2 linked regions of the Homo sapiens genome follow. The protein of the gene in region 1 interacts with the protein of each later gene in a pairwise test. Each region holds a gene or a part of one and is shown in the gene's direction. Other genes may lie near its edges.

Evidence for each region.
Region 2: the proteins of ASB3 (region 1) and CRACR2A interact in binary tests that used the Homo sapiens proteins (3 or more experiments, as listed by UniProt).

What each region holds. Positions count from the first base shown.
Region 1 is NC_000002.12:53,775,928-53,785,226, reverse strand, and holds part of ASB3 (ankyrin repeat and SOCS box protein 3), read left to right. Parts: intron 1-9,299. UniProt on the Homo sapiens protein: Probable substrate-recognition component of a SCF-like ECS (Elongin-Cullin-SOCS-box protein) E3 ubiquitin-protein ligase complex which mediates the ubiquitination and subsequent proteasomal degradation of target proteins. Recognizes TNFRSF1B.
Region 2 is NC_000012.12:3,615,905-3,625,203, reverse strand, and holds part of CRACR2A (EF-hand calcium-binding domain-containing protein 4B), read left to right. Parts: intron 1-5,831; coding exon 5,832-5,933; intron 5,934-8,173; coding exon 8,174-8,250; intron 8,251-9,299.

The sequences.
Region 1 (9,299 bases):
AACTAAGGTTATGTGAAAGACAATACCTGTAGGATGTGTTGCTTTTAGTACGTAAGTCAGAGGAGACTTCTGTGAGGAAGTGACATTTGAATTGTGACTTGAATGATGAAAAGAAGGGAGCCAGACAAATTTCTAGGCAGAGGCCCTGAGGCAGGAATGAGCTTGATGTGTTGGAGTGATAGAAAGAAGGCCAGTGTGGCTGGAGTGTAAGAGGAAAGTGGTAGAAGAAGTTTGAGAAGCAGAAAGAGGCCAGGGAGACAGCTCTGTAGGCAGGAGAGTGGACAGGACCCGATGTACATTTGTGAAGATCATTGTGGCTGCTGTGTGGAAAATTGATTGTAGGGGGTGTTGTGGGTTGAATTGTGTTCCCCAAAAAGACATGTTTAAGTCCTATCCCCTAGAACCTGTGAGTGTGAACTACTTGGGATAGGGTCTTTGCAAATATAATTCAAGTAAGGATGAGGTCATACTGAATCAAAGGGGGCCCTAATCTGGTGACTGGTATCTTTATAAGAAGAGGGAAATTTGGATACACATGGACACACAGGGAGAATGCCATGCCAGGAAGGAGGAGGCAGCAAGATTGCAGTATGTGTCTATAAGACAAGGAATGCTAAAGATTGCCAGTAATCACCACAAGCTAGGAAGAGGCAAGGAAGAATCCTTCTTTAGAGCTTTCAGAGAGAGAGAATAGCCCTGCTGACATCTTGATTTCTGACCTCTAGTTTCTAGAATTGTGAGACAATCAATTTATGCTGTCTAAGCTGCTCAGTTTGTGGTCATTTGTTACAGCAGCCTCAGGAAGGTAATAGAGGATGAAAACCAAAAAGTAGTTGAGACAAGTCTCAACCAGTTTAGAAGTTTATTTTGCCAAGGTTAAGGACGTGTCACAGACAGCCTCAGGAGGTCCTGACAGCATGTGCCCAAAGTGGTCGGGCTACACTTGGGTTTTACACATTTTAAGGAGCCACAGGACATCAATCAGTACAAGTCTTTTATGCTTTATTTATAGGTTGATTCTTAAACATTGAAAACTTATCAACTATTTACCATATTGTAATTATACAATCATCATTCGCTATAAAACTATTAAGTATGATTGCATCTGCAGAGAAAAAATGTAATTCTACCTCTGCCAATTAAGGTATCCTATTAGCTTCCTAATAATGGCACCATGTTTGCTAAAATAAACTCATTTTGCTCCTGAAGCTGTATTTCCAGCTCTCACACATGTAATTTAGACTAGTTGCTTTACAAGTCAGTTGCATACCTGTTTACTGAGATTTTTTTGTATCATGCCTGGGTTAGGTCTACTGCTTTATGTATTCCATGTCCTCATTTGTCATAGATTTTTTTCCCACCTTGTAGGGGTATAACTAATTTCAAGCAATTTTTTTCAGGAAGGATTAAACAGGTAATTTAATTTCCACAGACTTCATATGTCTGAAAATGCCTTTACCTTGCCTGCTCATTTAATGATAGCTTGGGAATAGACTTAGTCCACAATCATTTTGTTTTCTTCAAAACTCTGAAGACATTCTCTTGCTTTTTGTGTCTAGTGTATCTGATGACAAGTCTAATGCCAGTCTCTTTCTTTTGCAGGTATCATACTTTTTTCTCTGGAAGATTTTATTAGACTGTTTTCTTTATCATTGGTTCTGTGATATTTTATCAGTGTTTCTAGGTGGTGAATCTTTTTTCATTCATCCTTCTTGGCACTCTATGAATCCTATTTTTCACTTCTGGGAAATTTTCTTCAATTATTTCTTTAATTATGTTCTTGACATTTTCTCTGTTCTATTCAGAATTTAGATAGGTTCTTCCAAATACATTTAGATAGATTCTTCCAAATACAGAGGAAAAATATAAAAAGAAAAAATACATAATACGAAGGATCAATCCAAGAGGTCCATTTCCTTGATTTTCAGTTCTTTTCACTTTCTTTTTTCAGTGGTTTTTTCCCCACAGTTTCTAGTCATCTAGTTATTTTTAATGGATGCATTGTTCTCATGACATGAATTTCTTTGAGGATAACACTTATAACTTTTAAATATTTATGTCCCATTCCCGGAAATAGCTCTGCTTCTTTCAGGTCAGTTGTTTATTTTCATCCTTTCTGTCTGTTGTGCTTTTACTTCAAAAAAAAAAATTCTTGGCGGGGCATAGTGGCTCACACCGGTAATTCCAGCACTTTGAGAGATCACCTGAGGTCTGGAAGGTCAAGACCAGCCTGGCCAACATGGTGAAACCCTGTCTCTCCGAAAATAAAAAAATTAGCCGGAAGTCTTGGCAGGCTTCTGTAATCCCAGCTACTCAAGAGGCTGGGGCAGGAGAATCACTTAAACCTGGGAGGCGGAGGTTGCAGTGAGCCGAGATTGCGCCATTGCACTCCAGCCTGGATGACAAAAGTGAAACTTCATCTAAAAAAAAAAAAATTATTGAGCTCTTTTGTAAGTGAGCAGGGTACTAGCTGTTGGGTCTAACTTTAGGGTCCTTGAGTGAAGTGCAAGAAACGAGTTGCCTCTTTCCTCCTCTCCTTCCACCCTGTACCCAAATAAGGAATGCTTTGTTATGGAACATGAAGATGCTCAAAGGCTTCCAGGGTAGACTGTTAAATTAAAAAGAGCAATAACAACAAAATAGATGTGGTTTTAGCCAGAAACAAATACTGTTGCTGCCAGGCGTTTTGTGTGTAAAGGGCTGTGGTAAAAAGTTTGGCTTGCTGTTTCATATAAATATTATAATAATTCTGATTTTAGTCCTACGTCCTTCCTCTGCTTGTTTCTAAGATTGGTACCTCTCCAGGCTCTGCTGGCAAGAATGTCTTCTACATTGCTATAGCCTTCTCATGTATGCATGTGTGTGTGTTCTGGACTGCAGTTTTCTCTGCACTGGCTTAATCCTCAGCATAATCCTACCTGCTTTCTCTTCCAGAATGAATGAGTGCATTTCAGTGCGATTTTGTTAGGAAGCGGAGGAAAATGTATGTGCTTAGTTTGCCTTGCATAGAGTGAGTAATCCATTGTTTTTTTGTTTGTTTGTTTGTTTTTGAGACAGGGTCTCGCTTTGTCACCCGGGCTAGAGTGCAGTTGCATGATCACTGCTCACTGCCATCCCAACCTCTGGGGCTCAAGCGATCCTCCCATCACCTCAGCCTCCTGAGTAGCTGGGACTACAGGTGTGCACCAGCCTGCCTAGCTAATTTTTTTATTTTTTGAATTCTTGGTTTCCCAGAGTGTTGGGATTACAGATGTGAGCCATGGCACCCAGCCAGTACTTGTTGAATAAATCAATGCTGTTGAAAAAATTGGGCAAGGCATACTGTTGTTTAAAAAGAAAATTATGGCTGTAGGAGATAAGTAATTAGGTGAATCTTTTAAATCCTGTTTTAAAAAGTCCTATTTTATTTTGTCCTAATTAAAAAAGAATCTCCGCCGGGCGTGGTGGCTCACGCCTGTAATCCCAGCACTTTGGGAGGCTGAGGCAGGCGGATCACCTGAGGTTGGGAATTCAAGACCAGCCTGACCAACCTGGAGAAACCCTGTCTCTCCTGAAAATAGAAAATTAGACAGGCGTGGTGGCTCATGCCTGTAATCTCAGCTACTCTGGAGGCTGAAGCAGGAGAATCACTTGAACCTGGGAGGCAGACATTGTGGTGAGCCAAGATGGCGCCATTGTACTCCAGACTGGGCAACAAGAGTGAAACTCTGTCTCAAAAGAAAAAAAAAATGGAAAGAATCTCAAAGGGGTTAAGCCCTACCAATGGAGGTACAAAATGAGATAACTACCATCTCTCACTTTTTTTTTTTTTTTTGGAGACAGAGTCTCACTTTGTTGCCTAGACTAGAGTGCAATGGCATGGTTTTGGCTCATTGTAGCCTCAACCTCCTGGGCTAAAGTGATCCTCCCACCTCAGCCTTCTCAGTAGCTGGAACTACAGGTGTGCACCACCACGCCTGGCTAATTTTTTTTGTATTTTTTGTAAGAGATAGGGTTTTGCCATGTTGCCCAGGCTGGTCTTGAACTCCTGGGCTCAAGTGATTTGCCCCCTCAAGCCTCCCAAAGTGCTGGGATTACAGGTGTGAGCCACTTGCCCGGCTTCCTTTTTTGTTCTTTTTAAAATTGTAGGCCTTAATTTCATTTTGTTCCTGTTCAGTGCTTAGCACAGTTCCTGGCATGTTGTAAATGTTCAATAAATGATACTACATTTGTTTTACTTAAGCAATTTTCATCATCGTAGAAAATAAGGATTAAATGAGTTAATATACATAAAGCACTTGGAATAGAATCTAGCATATAGTTAGTGCTACATAAGTGTTAACCATTATTCTCTGACACATGAACACCTTTTTGTTTTTTCTATGAAGCTTTCTCTGATTCTGCTACTTTGAATTGGTAATTTGCCTTTCTGTATTCTGGTTGTATTTTATTTATTTGTTATTAGTTTTAGAGACAGAGTATTGCTGTGTTGTTCAGGCTGAAGTGTAGGGGCCTTATGATAGCTCACTGCAGCCTTGAACTTCTGGGCTCAAGAGATCCTTCTGCTTTATCCTCCAGAGTGGCTAGGACTGCAGACATGTGCCACTATGCCCAGCTAATTTTTACATTTTTGTAGAGACATGGTCTCACTATATTGCCCAGGCTGGTCTCAAACTACTGACTTCAAGTGATCCCCTTGCTTTGGCCTCCCAAATTGCTGAGATTACAGGCACGAGCACCATACCCACCCCTCTGCTTGTATTTTATATCACATCTTTTATATTAAATAACATAGATTTGTTTGCTTGTGTGTTTCTCCACCAAATATGATTCTTGATAGCCGGGGACTATCTTATTTATTTTGGTGGTCTCAGTGCATAGTCATTGCTTGCCACATAACATTAGTTCGCTCATTTGAGCTAGGTCTTAAAGAATGAGGAGGGTGGTGTGATTGGAGCATGAGGGGCAGGGGAGTACGTCAGTGGGAAGTGAAATTTGACAAATACACTGATACCAGATTGACCAGATGGTAAGTAGTTGAATGCCAGATTAAAGGATTTGAATTTATTTTATATGCAGCAGGAAGACATTTTGATTACTGACCTCAGTTTCATATTTTAGGTAAGTAATTCTGAGTGCACAGTAGAGCGTGTATTGGAAAGAGGAAAAGAGATTGGAAACAAGAAGAATATGTAAGAAACTCTGGCTCTTGATGTATGATAAGGCTCTTTAGTTGAGAATCTTTCAGCATGTAACCTTTTACTATCATGTAATCTTTTAAGCCTTATCACAAAAAGCCTTCAGGGCTTCCTTGGTAACTTCATTTTGACTTTGTTAAAAGAAAAACTTTAGACGAAATCAATTTATCAGAATTTGTTTTTGTGTTAAAGGATTAATGAATTTGGCAGCACCCAAAATTAGAAGTAGTTCAGGGAGCTCTTGTTTTAACAGAGTAAGCGGCAGACCTTTGCAGGCTGAATGTGGAAGCGAAGTAAAGAAATTACTTGATTGGACTGGGCATAGTGGCTCATACCTGTAATCCCATCATTTTGGGAGGCTGAGGTAGGTGGATCACTTGAGCTCAGGAGTTCAAGACCAGCCTGGGCAACATGGTGAAACTCCATCTCTACAAAAAATGCAAAAATTAGCCAGGCATGGTGGCACATGCCAGTAGTCCCAGCTACTTGGGAGGCTGAGGTGGGAGGATTGCTTGAGCCTGGGAGGTTGAGGCTGCAGTGAGTTGTGATTGTGCCACTGCACTCCAGCCTGGGCAACAGAGCGAGACCCTGTCTTGAAAAAAAAAAAATTACTTGATTGTCATAGCTACTTGTTTGTCTTATTTGGGTACAATCTGGCAGAAAGTTGCTTGTTAGAGAATAGTTGTTGGTTTCTGATTAAAATTAAGTTGTGACATCCTATGGATTGGGAGGAAATATTTGCAAGCCATACATGAGATAAGGGATTAAAATTCAGAATATAAAAGGAACTCAAATAACTCTATAGAAAGAATACAAATAATCCAGTTAAAAAATGGGCAAGGAACCTGTATAGACATTTCTCAAAAGAAGACATACAAATGGCCAACAGATACATGAAAAAATGTTCAACATTACTAATCATCAGGGAAATGCAAATTAAAACCACTATGAGATATCACCCCAATATGTGTCAGAATGGCTACTATCAAACAGATGAAAGATAAGTGTTGGCAAGGCATGTGGAGAAAGGGGAACCTCTGTACACTGTTAATGGCAATGTAAATTAGTACAACCGTTATGGAAAACAGTGGCAGTTCCTCAAAAAACTAAAAATAGAATTACCATATGATCCAGCAATCCAACTTCTGGGTATTTACCTAAAAGATTGGAAATCAGTATGTTGAAGAGATATCTGCACTCCCATGTTCATTGCAGCATTAATCACAATAGCCAAGATACGGAATCAACCTAAGGGTCCTTAGACAGATGAATGGATAAAGAAAAATCTGGTGTACATACGTAGTGGAATACTATTCAGCCTTAAAAATGAAAGAAACTTTGTCATTTGTGACGACATGGATGGATTGGAGAACATTAAGCTAAATGAGATAAGCCAAGTACAAGCAGACAAACAACATATGTGCTTACTTATATATTTAATCTAAAACCGTTGAACTAAAAGAAGCAGAGAGTAGAACAGTGGTTACCAGGGTTGGAGGGAAGGCATGGGGGAATGGGGAGATGATAGTCAAAGGGGAGGAATTTTTTTCTTTGAGATATGTTGCACAGTATGGTGAATATAGTGACTAATAATGTACTTTATACTTGCTAAGAGTAACTTTTAAAAGTTTTCACTACAAAAAAAATTTGAGGTCATGGATATGTTAACTAGATTTAATTATTCCACATTGTATTCATAAATCATCACTTTGTACCTCATAAATATATAACTATAGTCAGTTTATAATTAAAAAATAAAAAGCAAAGATTAAGTTTTGTTTCACTGTTTACATTGGGCTTCAGTTTGCTTACATAGGAACCCAGAGTCCTAGGACCATCTTAGCCAAATGGCCTCCAATTAAAGATTGCTTACACTCTTTTTTTTTTTTTTTTTTTTTTTGAGACAAGAATCCTGCTCTGTTGCGCAGGCTGGAGTGCAGTGGCGCCATCTTGGCTCACTGCAACCTCTGCCTCCTGGGTTCAAGCAATTCTCCTGGCTTAGCCTCCCAAGTAGCTGGGACTACAGGTGCCCGCCACCACACCTGGCTAATTTTTTTGTATTTTTGGTAGAGACGGGGTTTCACCATATTGGTCAGGCAGGTCTCGAACTCCTGACTTCAGGCGATCCACCCGCCTTGGTCTCCCAAAGTGCTGGGATTACAGGCGTTAGCTACCACACCTGGCCAAGATTGCTTACACTTTTTAAAAAATGTTATATTGTTTTTAGTAAAACAAAGGGTAAAATTTAATAAAAAGGCACAAACACATTTTGTGTATATTGTGAAAATACCATCTATTTCCTCCAAAAGCTTATAAATTGATATGAGTATCATAAACCTGTTTATTTTTCTCCTGGACTAAGTATTGTTCAACGTTTAATGTGTATTATGTACAGGGAGGTAATGTGGGACCAGATTTTCTGGTTGGGAAAGGAGATGAGTACTGGTTTTAGTACAATAAGTTTCCATGCTTGTGTAGCACAACTGGAGATGCCTTCATGTAACAGACATATGAAGAGGTTGAGAGAGTAGGCTGGAGATTGGAAGCTATCCAAGTAAAATTGAAGCCTAGGATTTGATGAGTTTGTGTATTTGATAAAGAATAGTGTAAGAGTTGTAACTGGAAACACAATGAAATGTTTTTGTCTTTGGCTTTAGTGACATGGGATGCTTGATCACTAGTGTCTGATGCACCAGAGAAGCATGAAAATTGCAATCTTTGGGTTCAGTGAGGAAGTGGTCATTGGAGACTTGATACTATAATGATTGGGTGGTATGGCAGAGTAAAGTTGAATTGGAAAGGGATTAAGACGAGTTGATAAGGAAGTGAAGCACTGTGTAGTTAAAAAATTTCTGTGAAGAATAAGAAAGCTGGAAGAACACAAGAAACTGTAGGATTAGTGGTGGTTTTTCCAGTTACAGTGTGTGTACATGTGTGGGCGAACCATTTATAAAGAGAAGGAGGCTCAGTACAATTAAGTAAAACAACCAAGAAAATGAAACTGAAATATAGTATTTTAGAAAGGTAAAATGAACCATAGGAATGAAAAGTCCCTGAAATCCAATAAAGCTAATTTTCATCATATAAATTTGACATACAGAAGAAAAATTTTGGTATTTTAATTGTCTTTGGAAGAGTTAAAATTCTTCAACATAGTAGCCACAGGATTACAAAATCTTTGAGTCTGTAATATATGCTTAGAGTGAATTCAAGGTTTTATTTTAGTTTTTTGAGACAGGGTCTTGCTCTGTTGCCCAGCCTGGAGTGCAGTGGTGTGATCATGGCTCACTGCAGCCTCGAACTCCTGGGTTCAGGCAATAGTTCTGCCTCAGCTTCCTGAGTAGCTGGGCCTACAGGTGCATGCCACTACACCTGGCTAATTTTTAAATTTTTTATAGAGATGGTGCTCTTCTGTTGCTCTGGCTGGTCTCTAGCTCCTAACCTGAAGTGATCCTCCCTTCACAGCATCCCATCACAGCACTCCAGAGTACTATGATGACAGGTGTGAGCCACTACACTGGCCAAATTCAAGGTTTTAGAAATCCATAAAAATAGATTGCCAAAAGCTGAATAAATTAATAGACAATACAGTCAGTATTTTTGCTGAAAAAAGATAGGCATAACAGGAACATTTGATAGGTAACTTTTAGCGTGATGTGATGAAGAGAATTTTAAAGCACATTTATCATCTAATTGCCTGGAAAGAAAGAACCAGGGATGGTAAATTAGAAATTTAATAAATTTATCACCCTTTCTGTTTTACAGGACAAGTGAAATGCCGTCTGGAAAACTAATATTTAAAATGTTGGAAGATATTTAAAGTAGATATGTAGCTGAGTAAATTACTAAGATGTTAATAAATAGGAAAACATGAAAAGGACATGTAGGACAGCTTTATGTGAAAAACTTCTGTACTAATTATTAGTCATGCCTGAGTTTAAGGAGCTTTTAGTAAGTATATTGTGTTTAGTTTTATACTGAAGTTCTTATGGTGAAAGATTCTAGAGAGATTATATGTCCTCTTGAGAAAGAAATAACCTATAATCAGGAATAACCTGAATGGTTTGAATCAAAGTTAATTCTATGTGAGTTAATAACTTGTTTCCTAGTTGAGTAGCAGCA
Region 2 (9,299 bases), on another chromosome or scaffold:
GTGGGCTCGGGAAGCCTGGCTGAGATGGCAAATCTATACATAGTTAAATCAGAATTGCTTATGTGTAAACAGGGCTTTTCTATATGATTTCTAGTTTGAGTTTTTCCTTTTTTTTAAGATATTAGCCAAAGGTACATTTAAGCTCTAATTGATTATTCTAAACCTGGGTGAACATCAGGATCACACGTGGAGCTTTTAAAGGGAACAGAGGCCAGGGGCCAGGGCCTTCTCTCCCAGAGTGGTTCAGAGCCTGCAAATAAAAAATAAAACGAACAGCTCCCCAGGGAATTTTGATTCTCAGCCACCACTGTTCCCGGCTAAACAAGCGCTCCTTGAACCCTAACATATATAGGACTCTCCTGGGGAACTTCTTAAAATGCAGTCTCTGCTTCAGCAGGTCGGGACTGGGGTCTGAGATTCTGTGTTTCTAGCAAGTTCTCATGTGAGGCTGATGCTGGTGGTCCAGGGATGACCCTGTGAGTAGAAGAGCTCTAAGTCATTTCCGAAGATGCCTGTGACCCCTCACCAAGGTTTTACTACACATCTGCGGCATGTCCAGCACACACTAGGAGCTCTGGGACTCAGTATGATAGACCAGGCAATGCGTTCAGTTCAGCAGCACAGAGTTTCAGAAACAAGTGCAGGAGGCTGTGTCAAATGGCAGAGTGTGTGTTGAAGGTGTGGAACGGTGGCATCATAAATGCAATTATTCTCTAGATTCTTGAAAAGCTAAGTCATTCTGCCTTGGCAACCAGCAATCAGAGGTGTCAGGTGATAGATTAAAACTTGACACCTAATTTGATCTGAGGGGAACTGAAAATAATAAGTACCTTATATTTGTGGAGCACCTTATTTTTCCAAAGAGCTCTGAGCACTTTACCAACTCCCTCGCCTGGAGAAGGGAGGGTGGAGGGGGAGCTTTAATAACAGTCTTCAAGGTTCTGAAGCCTTATTAGTAAGTGAATGGTGGCCAGCTGTTCACAGTCCCCCTTCCTCCCTCAACCTGAAAAGCATACAAGAAAAAAGGGCTTCAGTTGCTGTACATGCCTGCATGGGAAAGACTCTTGGAAGAGGTTGTGTGGGGTGGGAACAGATGCTCGGGGGAGGTAGTGGAGTTCCCTGAAAGGAAGTTCTTACTATCCCATCTTGATCACTTCCTGGCCATGAAACTTTGGCCAATCATTCAACAAGGCAGCAGACCAAATGCTCCCTCCTGGCCCCTAAATTTCTACAGTGTATGATGGCATTTGACTATCTCTCTGGGAGGCCAAGACGGAGCAGGAATGTGTGTGGATGAGGAGATTCTGGAGGGTCCTTCCAGCCCAGAGGGAACCAAAATCCTTTGGTGCAAGAGAGCACCAGCACTGCTTGATGAGATGGGAAGACTGTGGCCTTGCCCTTGTTCTGCTATTTCACCCAGTCTAGGCAACTTTACCTTGCCTGCAGGCCTTCTGCAGAAGAGGCCCAGCAGATGCCCTCTGTGCCGATTCTCCTGAGTGCCTTATAGGAAGTCACCGCAGGCAGTCTTTCGGCCAACTCGGCATTTCCAACCCACCCCCAATTTCTTATCTCAATTGGGTAGAATTGGTTTAACCATTCCAATCTGGAAAAGAAACTAGTCAGGCTCTAAGGCCCCACGTGTGGCCATGGGACAAACTGGACATCAGAAGACTCTGGGGCCTGTGTCGGGTAGAGAAAATAGAAATTAGAACGCCAGCCTGTACAAGCCTGTATGGGCTGGTATTTCCCCCAGAGCCGGATTGCTGGCCCCCAGTGTCTGCAGTCCTGGGATGCTGAGCTTCTTGTTTAGAGCCTCTTGTCGTTCTGATGGCACTAGATTCCTGGGCATGTGAGTCGAGGAAGTGAAATAGAATTGGCGGAGTTAAGCCGAATAGACCAGTGTTTCCGAGCTGGAAAAAAACGTGGAGATTAATCTAATGCAACCTCTTGTTTTATAAGTAAGAAAAACTATGATCCAAAAAGAGGAAGTGACTTTCCCAAAGGCGCCCACACTTGTCAGCAGCACCACCCGATCTAGAAGCGAGGGCTTTGCCACACTGCACTGCTTCTCTCTTGTCCTGTGGTCCATGGCTGAAATCTGCTCCTGAAAAGCAGGTGTTCATTTACTTTTCAGTCCTTCTTGCTTCTCTCTCAAAGCAGAACAGTTCTTCAGCTCAAGGGGTCCTGGCCCACTTCCCTCTCCCTTCCTGGGCTGCTAGCTAAACCTCATTCTGCGATCTTTGTCATTGGTGACAATGTACAGCATGGTGCAAAAAATAGCAGTTTGATTTTTTTTTCTCCACGTTCCAAGTTGAGCTTGAAGTGCTGGCAGTTTAAAATGAACCACACAAATAAATCTTGTTTTGACTCATAGTCCAGGGGATGGATAAATATGGAAACCCCCAAGATATAATTTTGCAGGCATTTTTTTTCTTAGCATAACTGCATGCTTTAATGTGCTGAAAAAATTTTTGCTCTAGCTCCAGAGAAATAGCAGCACTATCCCAGCTAAGTGCTTTTTCATGCCTCCTAGCAAATAGATATTAAAACGCACGCACACACACACACACACATGCACATAGGCAACAACCAACCAAACCCAGCAGCTGCACATTCTGAGCTGAATGCCAATCCACTGCTCCAAGTTGACAGCTCTTGTTATTTAAAGTCAGAGATGGGTGATCTTTTGAATTTCAACAAGTCTGTCTTCCAACAAGCTCAAGTTCACAGAAAGGCAGCTGAAATAACTGAAGGTGGAGGGAAGGCTCTCTGTTAGAGGGTCATAGAACAGAACCTGGCTTTGGAACAGAGAGACACAGAAAAGAGGAGAGACTCAGATGAGTCACATGGAGAGATGGTGACAGAGCTAGGGCAGAACCCACATCTCCTAAAGAGAGATTGTGTGCCTGATGAAGGAGCTAAGATGACTTCACTCCAACCTGTCATGCTGATGGGATTTTTACCAACATCTCTCACAGTCTCAAGACAACAGAGTTTGAGTAGACCTGAGACCTGTTCACCAAAGCCCTAGGGGCTTGAAGGAGGTGTTGCTTCATCTAGGAGGTAATTTTGAACATCTTGTGCTGAGTGGTATGCAGGCTGAAAACCTAGTTAGGTATGAGAAAGGTGTAAAGTTTAGACAGATAGTTCCAGACTTTTGGGGTCAAAGTCAGAGAGGACCATGAGACACCTACCCCAATACCAGCTCCTCTCCCTGCCCCTGTGCCAGAGACTGATGACCTTGGGCCAGGGTGATGGTGACTGACTGTGATAGTTAGCACACTCCCTGGTCTTATGGGTATTCTCATTTATTTTTGCCAAATATTTGGAGATGAGTCTGTTTCTCCTTTATCGGTGGCAGGCCAGGGTCCCTGCAGGGAAGCCAGTTGTCCAGAGTGGCTGTGTAAGAGAGGAACAATACAAAGAACAGAAACCGCAGCTCCTGCTGAGTGCTTTGCTTTTAAATTTTTTTTTTCTGCTCCTTCTAAGCTCCTTTATTTTTATATCCAGGAATTGCTTTGGTTTTTTTTTTTTTTTTTTTTTTTTTTTTTTTTTGACAGAGTCTCTCTCTGTCACTGAGGCTGGAGTGCAGTGGCACAATCTTGGCTCACTGCAAGCTCCGCCTCCCAGGTTGAAGCAATTCTCTGCCTCAGCCTCCCAAGTAGCTGGGACTACAGGTGCCCACCACCACACCTGGCTAAATTTTGTATTTTTAGTAGAGACAGGGTTTCACCATCTTGGCCAGGCTGGTCTTGAACTCCTGACCTCATGATCCACCCACCTCGGCCTCCCAAAAAAAAAAAAAAAGAAGAAACCTGCCCTTTCTTTTCCCAGGACGCAAGAGGCACCATTGCTGTTTATGGTGCATAGGACCCAGATGTTGGGCTTATGACCCATTCCCTACCCCATCCTATTGGGTCATTCAGTATCCATCATCCCCTCTGCAAGCGAGGAAACAGAAGCCAGTGCCCATTCCAAATAATACCAAAACCTGGGGTAGAATTCTGCCCTGGGATTTCAAGTCTGATGCTCATATTTTCAGAGTTTCCATGTCAAGAAATCCCACAAGCCTTAATCATTCCTCACACATAAATCTACAAATATCTCTCTCCCATGTGCTCTAAACAGCAAGCCGCTTGGCCCATTTCCCTGCTTCCTCCTCCTTTCTTCCCTTTCCGTGAAAAGCTCTTCGCACAAGTATCCCGTGGCACAGCACGGTCAGAGGAGGGGGTGTTCCCATTAGTGAACGCTCTAGCTAATAGGGGGCCACAGGGTTCCATATATGCCATCAGTGGCTTTCTCACTTTCAAGTAGTTGGAATATGTACAATCCACTTAGGACATCAACTGCAGTGTCCAGAATTTAATCTATTTTTGATGGGTCAGAAGACACTGTAAGATCTTGTAGCGCCTTTGAGTCATCATTGCAAACACAAGTTACCATCTGACCAATAGATACCATTTTTAGAGGGTTCCAGTTAATAAGATACTAAGTAGCAGAGACTTGATTGGAAATAAGAATCTAGAGGAAAAGGTTGGAGAAGTGAGGACCCATATACTAAAGAGTTCTCATAATTCAGTGCTTATGGTGTTGAATGTTCTTTTTGATTCTCTGAGCCTTAACTTTCTCATTTGTTAAATAAGAATTTTTTTCCCCTATTAAATGGCAGTAAAAACGAATGCACAGATTAAGGAAACATTGAGGCTTAATTTCAAACATAATAGCATTTAAATTTAAAATTGGTATATCTGTAAGATGGACTTTGGACATTTATTTGAAATGCTCAAGTAAAACAGCTAAAGTATTGGCAAAACTGTAACTGCTTATTAGCTTCTGTTATCCCACAGGTCCCTCTATTTAGTAAAACATTTAGCTACAATGAATAACTATTTGTTACTAAATTATGATTAAAAGCCCCTAATTAAATATTTAAGTAAAAATAACAACCTTCTTCAATGTGCACATTACCACATTTACTCACTGAATGGCAGTCGGTGGTCCCGGGCCCTTTGGGCGCCCTCAGGAGAGACACACACGGTGCCCCTTTCACCAGGGAGGAGGTGGAGACCCGGGAAGCAGGCCCCTGGCTGGTAAGCCACAGCCATTGGGGAAGTAAACAATGTGATACCTTGAATAAACCTGTGACTTCTGGCCCAAGCAGTGCAGCTGCTATGGCCACAGTGTTCCTTCTTACACAGGGCTTTCTTCAGAGCCAAAGCGCCCAGTGACAGGGGTCTGTGGTGCCAGCCTCCAGCAAGGCACATGGCAGTCATTTATGGAGCCTTGTGGGCGCAAGACCATGAGGCAGATTTGGATCCAACCCTCAGAAGCTTATGTGCAATCAGGAGGCCTCTAGTGATGCAGTTTCTAATCAAAGCAGCCTCCAGAACAACTCCAAACCATGGGGCATTCATGGCCTTGGTCCATCGGACTAAGCCTGGCCAATTAGGCACGCCCTCAGGGTGCTGTAAGCTCTGGAAGGAGGCATGCAGCCTGTTGGCATCAACTGTCCCCTCATCCAGCACACCTTGGGGGGCCTGCTGTTCCATCTAAGATCCAAGGAGCATCGTGAAGGGGGAGCGGTCATTGCACACACAGGGACTAGGAGACACCACAGGCAGGCCTCAGGCACCTTGCAAAAGCATGATAAACTGAGGCTCTTGGAGAAGGCGGCTGTTTTCTGCTTTCAGGATGACTCTGTTACGGCCTCACCTTTTATGGCAGCAGGGGATTCTCAAGCGAGGTCCCATCTGTCCAGCCGGCATTGTTAGCCTGCCCTCTGGGCAATCCTATGACACCCCTCTCAGTTGAAAACATTTTCTGTTCTGCAGGAAGCTGTGGGAGACCGGGTGCCTGTTCTTCTGCTGGGTAATAAGCTTGACAACGAGAAGGAGCGGGAAGTCCCCCGGGGCCTCGGAGAGCAGCTTGCCACGGTAAAGAGCAAGCATTTCCATCTCTCTGGACAGAGTGTGACCCCGAGGGAAGTTGGGCAAGTGCCCAAGAGCCTTGGTGGGGACTTTCTCTGGAAGTGCCATGGGAAGGAAGCAACTGGAAAACATGGGTGTCTTGGTATCCTGGGAATGGCTCAGCTCCTGTGCATGTAGAACTTTGCATAGAAAGCCACAGGTTGCAAGATGGAGTTGGTTAGGGACCACTAGGGCATGGGGAATTATCCTAAAGTCCCTTCCTTGTAACTCAGAAGTATACATTCTAAGATAGCAATAGTTTACTTATTTCAATCCCCCTCCAATCTGCATTTCCACTTGATCACCCCCAGGGATGAAAAACTCACTCTCTGCAAAGCAGTGTATTCTTCTGCAGACCACTGTGTTAGAGAGTTCATCCTTTTTGTCAGGATTGAGCCTCAAAGTCATGAACTCAAGATAAACTCAGGAGACACACTGGAAAACCTACCATTAAAAAGCATGGAGCCCCTTGCTCAAAAATGGAATCAATGGGGCTTAATGGAAATCAGGCAACAAAATGTGGTTCCTTGGCTTCTTTTACTGCCTCAGAGTTTGTTTTCATGGAACTGTGTGTCTGGGAGGTTGGGGTGCTTACCAGCCCCATGATTCTGTAATTCTTTGCATGCTCATCCTAAACAGCGTTTCATGAGTTCAGAGCCTGGGAGAACGAGCACAGATGGTAAGACTCAAGGAAAAAGGAGGAGGAAGGGCCTGGCAGGTATCTACATGGAGGGTCACTAGACAGTTACATGTCCACAATTCCGAAATCCAAAAAGCTCTGAAAACAGAAAGGGTTGTTTTGTATTTTATCTGGCAGAAAAATCTGACCAGAAATGACACGAGGCTATTCATGGTTGTAACCTCACTTTGAGTGAATAGTCAAAGGTTTCACTGAAGAAATAGTAATATATTTGATTATAGAGTGCTGTCTGAAATCCACTGAGGGTATTATATAATATATGGTATATACATGTATTACCTTTCTAAGATTCAGAAAATTCTGGATTTCAAAATATACCTGGACCCAAAGATTCTATCCATTCTCTTTTCTTTTCTTTTTTTTTTTTGTTAGTGAAAAAAAAACTAAGACTCGGGAGTTAAGTGATACATTCGTATTATCACAGCTCACCCGAGGTGGGGTCAGAACTCAAAGCAGGAAGGCAAATCATGTCTTCCAGTTCTAAGTCCTATGTCCTTCTCTCCCCTCCCCACTATTCCCACCCCATGGAACTTCTACTCTTTGACAGACTGACCCAAGAGATTGCAGATCTGAGAGAAATGCAGACAAGGAGAAATAGAGCCCATGGGGCTGGGTGAAAAGGGCAGAGGGTCGAGCTGGCCTGTGGGTGTAGATGGGGAAAGCTGCACTGGGAGCATGGCAGAGCCTCCTGAGCTACAGCCACAGAACTGTCCTCACTCAACTGGCCTGCATCCCCTCAGGGCATCAGCCTCCAAGAACAGGCCATCTAAAAGCCAGGGCCCTGTGCCATCAGCATTGTCATAATGACACCAGTAATCTATTAATGGGAGTGATCAATGGAATATGATGAGCCTTAACCAAGGGCTCCCGCACCATGCAGGCAGCACAACCTCATCCTAATGAGCTGACGGCCAGTCTGGTGCACCAGTGCTGACAGCCAGGGCAGCTAGAGTATTAATTAACTGGTGCGAAAGAGAATTCCTACCGGAGTGCCTCATGACACCTGTCCCCAAGGCCTATGGAATGCCACTGTCTTGGGAAAAGCATGCTGCAAGGAGCTCTGCCATTAACTCAATGTGGGACTGAACAAGCCAGCCAAGTGCCCTCTCTCACTACAGCTTATCTGCCTGTGAAAGGGGGAAGAATATTGCCCACCCTGGCCTTTGTGTCTTTGCCTGAATCACAGGGCTGGTGTAACCTGGAATGAGCATGTGTGTACTTGAGAGGAATTTGGGAAAGTGTAAAGAGGAACTAAGACAGCGTATGGTTTCATTGTTTTACAATTGTTATAGCTCACCTGGGAGATGGTTACAGAGCTTGCATTGTCAGGGAGGCTGTGGAGACAGAAATCAGCCATGTACAGAGTGGGGAAGGATTATGAGGAAGGTCAAGGGGCTGCGAGAGGAAGTGAAGGCTGTAGGTAGATGCACAAGGGGGCTCTCCCACCACCCCCCACAATCCCCTCTCACTCCAATACTCTTGTATTCGCTCTGTTTTATGATTCTAGGAGAACAATCTGATCTTCTATGAATGCAGCGCCTACTCTGGTCACAACACCAAAGAGTCCCTGCTCCATCTGGCCAGGTAAAGAGATGTGCTCCCCAGGTGCAGTAACTGCTGTGTCCAGCTGTGTCTGCCTTCAGGGAGGCACCGTGTTTCCCTCCACCCAGGCCACACCTCTGACCCCCCTTCCTCCCTATTGGCCAGAGCCCTCTGAGTATAGGCAACGGGGTCCTGGGCCTTTGTATGGGATTGCAACATCAGGAGCAGCTTTCTGAAACAATGATGTTGGGAAAGAAAGCATCCCTACCTGTCACCCCCATTGCAGTCTTCTTCTTAGTCTTAAAGGCTGCCTTTTCCTAGGGATGCTCTTTTTAAATGCCAATCCTTCTGGGGGAAGGCCAGATCAGAGGCCCCTCAGCACTGGCTGATGTCTTAGCAGGGACTAGCTGGAAGCCAGCTGGAGGCAAGAATGGGTTATAATATGAGTTCCTGGGTGTGGGAGGAAGGAGTGGGTGTAGAAACCAGAAAGAAGAGGGGCTGTGATGGGAAATCAATGGGAGGTAACCAAGGTAATGGTGCTGGTAGCATGAAAAGACTGGTTCCTTAAGGCCCTGCCTACACCAAAAATTTAAACAACAAAACCATGCTGGGACTCATTTCTGATACTTAAGAATTCACTCATTCATTCATCCATCTAGGCCTTCATTTCATTCCATCTATTCATCCGTCCAGCAAATACTTAACAGAGCCCATTTTGTGCTCAGCACTCATTCTGGGGCACTTAAAAATATTTTTCTTTGAGTAATTAAGAGCCCAGAACAACTCCTCTATGCATTGGCGAGGTTATAGGGTTATGGAGTATCACAAGGAAACATTCTAGGCTTTTCTCTGCCCCTGACTCCCTGGGCAAATGCCCTGCCTCTCTGAGCTTTGTCAGGAAGGTAGGAACATCAATCACACCTTCCTTTCCTGCCCACTCACAGGTTGTTGAGAGAATCAAAGGAGGTGCGTAACGCAAAAGCGTTTGGAAAGTATAGAGAAGAGACAGGTGTTTACCATTATTTTTAATTCCTCACCTCCTACAATTAATCTGGAGCTGTGGCCACATGGCACAGCCCTACTGCAGAGGT